Homo sapiens: one gene and its partner. The protein of the gene in region 1 purifies or fractionates together with the protein of each later gene. This does not show direct contact. Each region holds a gene or a part of one and is shown on either strand. Other genes may lie near its edges.

Region 1 (3,500 bases):
AATTATAATCACTTCTAAAACTTGGTGAATTTTCTTTCAATAGAATCAAATGAACTCTCCCATAAGGTTATTAATAGTTTTCAAGGGAAATAAAAAATCAGTAACCTGTAGTTCTAGGTACTCAGGATGCTAAGGCAGGAGGATCACTTTAGCCCAGAAATTTGAGACCAGCCTAGGCAACGTAACGAAACCCCATTTCTTTAAAAAGAAAAAAGTAGATCATTTAGCAATATTTGCATTGGAAAATTTCTAAATAGGAACAGATTCAAAATTGTTTGTAGGCTGGGCGCGGTGGCTCACGCCTGTAATCCCAGCACTTTGGGGGGCCGAGGCGGGCGGATCATGAGGTCAGGAGATCGAGACCATCCTGGCTAACAGGGTGAAACCCCGTCTCTACTAAAAATAAAAAATTAGCCGGGCGTGCGGGCGCCTGTAGTCCCAGCTACTTGGGAGGCTGAGGCAGGAGAATGGTGTGAACCTGGGAGGCGGAGCTTGCAGTGAGCCAAGATCCTGCCACTGCACTCCAGCCTAGGCGACAGAGTGAGACTCCGTCTCAAAAAAAAAATAAAATTGTTTGTAAAGCCTCTTTTGAAGAGAAATAGTGTGCCAGTTTATAAAGGCACACATAAGACTGTACAACCTAATGAAGCCAAGGCAGTCTTTGGAGATTAGTACAGAGTTTTGTTATCTTGCTCATCTAATAAATTTTATGCTTTTTAGTGGCGAGTAAGAAAAGAAGCTATGATGGGTCTGGCTCAGCTTTATAAGAAATACTGTCTTCATGGTGAAGCAGGAAAGGAAGCTGCAGAGAAAGTCAGCTGGATAAAGGACAAACTTCTGCATATTTATTATCAGAACAGCATTGACGACAAGTGAGTTTAATATGTTGGTAGAATGGTTGAGTGTAAAACTACTTTTTACTTAAAAAATGTCTATTTAATATTTTAGTAATTTCTTATTTTTATGTATTTACTTCATAAATAAAATTAAGTTTATTCAACTTGATTAATCATTTATTTCTAAGTTTAGAGATAGCTTTTTACATATTTTTATGTACTGTGTTTAAACAAGACTGTCCACGATTATAAGGTAGCCTTATAATATGAAATAGGCATGAACTTTGGAGTTAGAGACCAAATGTTCACTCTGCCCTTTATTAGATGTGTATTCTTACATAGGTTCATTAAGGTCTTGTGCGCTTCAGTTTTATATAAAAAGGAAAAATAATAGTGCCTTTCCCACAGGATTATCATGTAGATTAAATAAAATAATGAATATAAAGCATCCTAGCCCAATGTGTGGCAAGAGAGCACTATTGAGTTAACTGCTAGTTACTTTCCTTTTTACACCACTACCAATAGAGGAATTACTAAGTTGTTTTCATTTTCTGAATATTACTTATAATTCTATATTGGATCGTACAAATGATACTTGGTGTGTGCAGAATAGTTTCCATTGTTTTGTTTAATTAAACTAACTTCTCTGGCATCACTGGATATGTATTTCATTTGTTAATTAAGAGATCTTGTATATTCTTAATCCAGTGATATTAAATAATAGAAGCAAGAAGATACAAGCAATAGGTACTAGCAAGAAGGATATTCCAATATTGGTAAGGAATTTAGATCATGGAGAGAACAATAATCAGATGTACACAGGAAAAACTACATTTTCTGGAAGTAATATGAAGGGGGGTCCCCCTGTTTTTAACTATGTGACAACATGGAAAATGGGCTGAACTGTAATCAGAGGAAATTAATGAGTTTCTTGAGAATTAGCTCTACCGCGGATCATAGCTTTATATGTTGCGTTAATGAATTTGCTTTTGTTCTAGACTGCTGAAGAAGAATAGGCGGAACAGCCTAGCACCCTGTGTTTAGGAATAACATTTAAACCTTCTAGAACAAATGTTTCATACTGACAAATTATAAAGCCACAGACAGTAACCGTGTCTCTAAAGTTAAACTGTACTGAAAGCTTTCCAAGAAGGAAGTCATTATAAACTGATATCTTCCATTGTATGTGCACACATAGCTATTATCTTGATATGGTATCCTGGCATAAGATGGTTAAAACTTAAAATGTTGGCTGGGTGTGGTGCCTCATGCCCGTCGTAATCCCAGCACTTCAGGACGCTAAGGCAGGCGGATTGCCTGAGCTCAGGAGTTCCAGATCAGCCTTGGCAACATAGGGACACCTTGTCTCTACAAAAAATATAAAAATTAGCTGGGCATGGTGGCACGCGCCTGTAGTCCTAGCTACTGGAGAGGCTGAGGTGGGAGAATCGCTTGAACCTGCGAGACAGAGGTTGCATTGAGCCGAGTTTGCACCACTGTACTCCAGCCTGGGTGACAGAGCAAGACCCTGTCTCCAAAAAAAAAAAAAAAAATTGCTTCTTAAAAATGGAATAATTGTGTCACTTAGGTTTTTTTTGTTGTTGTTATTTCCTAGACTGTTGGTAGAGAAAATCTTTGCTCAGTATCTTGTCCCCCACAACCTGGAAACAGAAGAGAGAATGAAATGCTTATATTACTTATATGCTAGTTTGGATCCAAATGCTGTAAAGTAAGTTACTTTTCAAATAACTGCTGTATTTTCTAAGGATTTCGTAAAATTACTTCATCTTATCTAATTAGTTGTTATTGATTGGATTGTTGCTGCTTCTATAGTTGAATCAAGAACCTCAGGTAAATATTTATAGACAAAATGTTACGATTTATGTTCAGGTTATTCTTATATGTGTAGGCTTGTTTGGCAGCCAGGTCAGTAGTAGGATGGTTTCAGGTGTTCAAATAAATGACCACGTCAAAATACCTGTGGCTAGTGTCTAAAACTACTGGTGCTTTATCCTTCCAGACTAAATATTAAGCCTAATAACTGAATACTGATTCTTTGTTGGGTGAACATATTCAGATCTTCTCTGTGTAAGATGGCCATATGATTAATGGTCCAACTGGATTATTTTCAGACTGAAAGGGATCACTATTGATATTTTTACTTAAATAGCATAATCAAACTGTCCCAGGCCAACCAGGATGTGTGGTCATTTCACTTTAATAGATTTTTTTTTTAAAGTAAATGTTACAATATATACATATATTATGTTGTACACCATCGTATATGTAATTTTTGTCAAAAATACACAAAGTAAATGAGTGATGTCATTAAGAATTCTGATCTGAAGATGGAAGGATCTTTTCAGCCTAGAAGCTTGACCATCCTGGGCAATGTAGTGAGATTCTGTCTTAAAAAAGAGAGAGAATTTTGAGTTAGGAATTTGACTGTTTGCCATTGTGGCTTCTTCAAGTGTTCCTGCATTATTAGATTAAGACTGCATTTTTAGGCCGGACGTGGAGGCTAACCCCTGTAATCCCAGCATTTTGGGAGGCCAGGGCAGGCAGATAATTTGAGGTTAGGAGTTCGAGACCAGCCTGGCCAACATGGTGAAACCCCATCTCTACTAAAAATACAAAAATATTAGTTGGGCATGGTGGTGCACG
Region 2 (3,500 bases), on another chromosome or scaffold:
TCTATCTCCTGACCTCATGATCCGCCCATCTTGGCCTGCCAAAGTGCTGGGATTACAGGCATGAGCCACTGTGCCCAGCCAGTTAACTACTATTTAAGACAAAATTAAATACTGATAAAGGTGCAAAAAGCTCTAGTAGGATAGAGGAATGAGAAATTGAGGAGCTAGGAAAGCTTGAAGGAGGTGGTGGCATTTGAACTGTTTCTTTGAATAGAATTTCAGTAATTGAAGTGGAGAAAACCCACAAAACACTACTTAATTACAAAGGGAAAATGAGTAACTTTACAATGGAGAGGCCTGGCAAACATCACCTTAATGAAGTGATCAAAGTTAACGTTACCACTAATGGGGCAAATTGAAATCATGTATCACCTGATACGAAATGCATTGAGAAGAACACAGCATCACTTCTATGATATTCCTGCCCAAAACGCATAACCTGAATATTATCATAAGGTAACATCAGACAACCTCAAATCAAGGGACATCCTTAAGGATTTCATGACAGTCCTTGGAAGGAAAGACTGAAGATTGTAGATCCAAAGACTGAAGATTGTAGATCCAAAGAGACTAGAGACATGACAACCAAATGCAAACATGATCCTGGATTGGATCCTTAGGTGTGTAAGGTATTATTGGAACAATCTGTGAAACTTGAATGGGATCTGTAAAGAAGGTGGTAGTAATGTGTGAATATCAATTTTCTGATTTTGATGGTTGTATTGTGGTTATGTAGGAGAATGTTCTTGTTTGTAGGAATTACACATGGTGAGGGAGAGGTTGGCAAACTTTTTCTATTAAGGACTGGATAATATTTTAGGCTTTGTGAGCCATATGGTTTCAGTCTCAACTATTCAACTCTGCTATTACAGTGTGAAGGCAACTGTAAATGATGCAAATGAATATGCATGGCTGTTTTCCAGTGAAACTTTTTTTTTTTTTTTTTTTTTGAGATGGAGTCTTGTTCTGTCTCCCAGGCTGGAGTGCAGTGGTGCCATCTCGCCTCACTGCAACCTCCACCCCCTGGGTTCAAGGGATTCTCCTATATCAGCCTCCTGAGTAGCTGGGATTACAGGTGTGAGCCACCGTACCCAGCTAATTTTTGTATTTTTAGTAGAGACAGCGTTTTGCCATGTTGGCCAGGCTGGTCTCGAACTCCTGACCTCAGGTCATCTGCCTGCCTTGGCCTCCCAAAGTGCTGGTATTACAGGCATGCGCCACCGCGCCCGGCCTCCCAATGAAACTTTTTTAATAGACACTGACATTTGAATTCCTTATAATTAATTTTCATGTATCATGAAATATTTTTCTTTTGACTTTTTCCCTGGCAATTTACAAATGTGAAAAAGCATTCTTAGCTTGAGGGCCATGTAAAAACAGCTGGAGGGGCCAGATTTGGCCACAGGCCAGAGTTTGCCCACCCTTACACTAAAGTATTAGGAGGTGATGAGCCATTGTGTCAACAGCTCACTTTCAAATAATTTAGGAAAAAGTAAGTTATTTGTACTGTTCTTGCCATTTTTTGATACTGAGTTGTTTTAAAATTAAATTTAGTATTAAAAAAGTGGAGGGAGGGGGACCTCCTCTTTTGGCTTTGGAGCGCCCCCCACGCCCCATCTCTGTACGGCGGAGCTTCTTCCTTCTGTCTTCTTTCTTCCTTCTTGCCTATTCAACTCTCTGCTCCTTAAAACCCAAAACAAGAAAAGTGGAGGGAAGACTACATAAATAGAGACAAGTAAGGCAGAGACTTGGGGAAAGTACTGGGCTTTGGGAGGAGCATTCAGTAGGTTGATGTCACTGGAGAGGAGGCATGTGAAAGGGGTATGGCCAACCATAAGACTAAGACTAGACAGGTGGAGCCACCACATGAAGGCCTTGATTACCTTGTCAGAATCTAACTCTTCTCTCCTTGAATTTTAGCATCATGGATACCGACTTATATGATGAGTTTGGGAATTATATTGGACCAGAGCTTGATTCTGATGAAGATGATGATGAATTGGGTAGAGAGACCAAAGATCTTGATGAGGTAAAACAAATATATTGCTCTTTTATCTCACTCTTATTTATTTTATTTAAGACAAGATCTCACTCTCTTGCCAGGTTGGAGTGCAGTGGCGCAATCTCAGCTCACTGCAACCTCCACCTCCTGGGCTTAAGTGATCCTCCCACCTTGGCCTCCCAAGTAGCTGGGACTACAGGTATGCACCACCATGCCCAGCTAATTTTTTTTTATTTTTCGTGGAGATGAAACATTGCCCAGGCTGGTCTTGAACTCCTGAGCTCGAGCAGTCCACCTGCCTTGGCCTCCCAAACTGCTAGGATTACAGGCATGAGCCACCATGCCCAGCCCCCTCTTTTTTCTTTTTTTTTTTTTTGAGACAGTCTCACCCTGTTGCCCAGGCAGGAGCGCAGTGGCACCATCTTGGCTCACTGCAGCCTCTGCCTCCCAGGTCCAAGCAATTCTCAATGCCTCAGCCTCCTGAGTAGCTGGGATTACAGGTGTGTGCCACCATGCCCGGCTAATGTTTTTTGTATTTTTAGTAGAGACAGGGTTTCACTATGTTGTCCAGGCTGGTCTTGAAGTCCTGACTTCAAGCAATCCACCTGCCTTGGCCTCCCAAAGAGCTGGGATTATAGGCATGAGCCACCATGCCTGCCCCCCCACCCCCCCCCCCACCTTTTTTTAAAAAACAATGAAATTTTGAATCCTCTGTGTTCCAGTGATACCCTGGGTACGTCTCTTGAGATTGTCCTTTTTATAACATGACTTAGTGGGATCTCATACTGCTCCAGCAAAGCTTCGCTACTAAGGTTCCAAAAGGGAATATGTAGTTTCATTGATGAGATGGTTTTGTAATCTGAGCTCTAGTTGATCATTAGTTCTTCCATTTCCCTGAAGTGTCTTTTAACAGTCATGAATAATTCCCACTTGGAAAAGATACTCAACTCTTCCAGCTACAGCTGCACTGGGAGCTCCCTCACAAGCTCAGATTTTCAGAGATGCATAAAAGCAATAGAAAGGGCCCGGGCGTGGTGGCTCATGCCTGTAATCCCAGCACCTTGGGAGGCCAAGGTGGTCAGATCACACGGTCAGGAGTTCAAGACTAACCTGACCAATACGGTGAAACCCCGTCTCTACTAAAAATACAAATATTAGCCAGGCTTGTTGGCGCGTGCCTGTAGTCCCAGCTGCTTGGAAGGCCGAGGCAGGAAAATCACTTGAACACGGGAGGCGGAGGTTGCAGTGAGCCAAGATTGTGCCACTGTACTCCAGCCTGGGCAACAAGAGTGAGACTCGGTCTCAAACAAAAAAAAAAAAAAATGACTGTTGAGTACTTAGGAAGCTAGCATGAGTTTTATAAAAATAATTTTCTCTTGATAGGATTACTAGGTTGAGCCACAGGTCAGGGGCATGCTGTGGACATGATGTATCTTGATTTGGGCAAGACATTTGAAGTTTTTTATTGATGTCTTATAAACCAGCATTTTTTTTTCTT

Evidence for each region. Proteins that work in one complex are often made in the same cells at the same time.
Region 2: the proteins of PDS5A (region 1) and EFTUD2 purify together in Homo sapiens (affinity purification with western blotting; 2 studies listed by BioGRID, with this or other methods). This does not show direct contact.

The regions. Positions count from the first base shown.
Region 1 is NC_000004.12:39,901,412-39,904,911, reverse strand, and holds part of PDS5A (sister chromatid cohesion protein PDS5 homolog A), read left to right. Parts: intron 1-720; coding exon 721-872; intron 873-2,451; coding exon 2,452-2,565; intron 2,566-3,500. UniProt on the Homo sapiens protein: Probable regulator of sister chromatid cohesion in mitosis which may stabilize cohesin complex association with chromatin. May couple sister chromatid cohesion during mitosis to DNA replication.
Region 2 is NC_000017.11:44,892,946-44,896,445, reverse strand, and holds part of EFTUD2 (116 kDa U5 small nuclear ribonucleoprotein component), read left to right. Parts: intron 1-1,920; 5' UTR 1,921-1,924; coding exon 1,925-2,029; intron 2,030-3,500. UniProt on the Homo sapiens protein: Required for pre-mRNA splicing as component of the spliceosome, including pre-catalytic, catalytic and post-catalytic spliceosomal complexes. Component of the U5 snRNP and the U4/U6-U5 tri-snRNP complex, a building block of the spliceosome.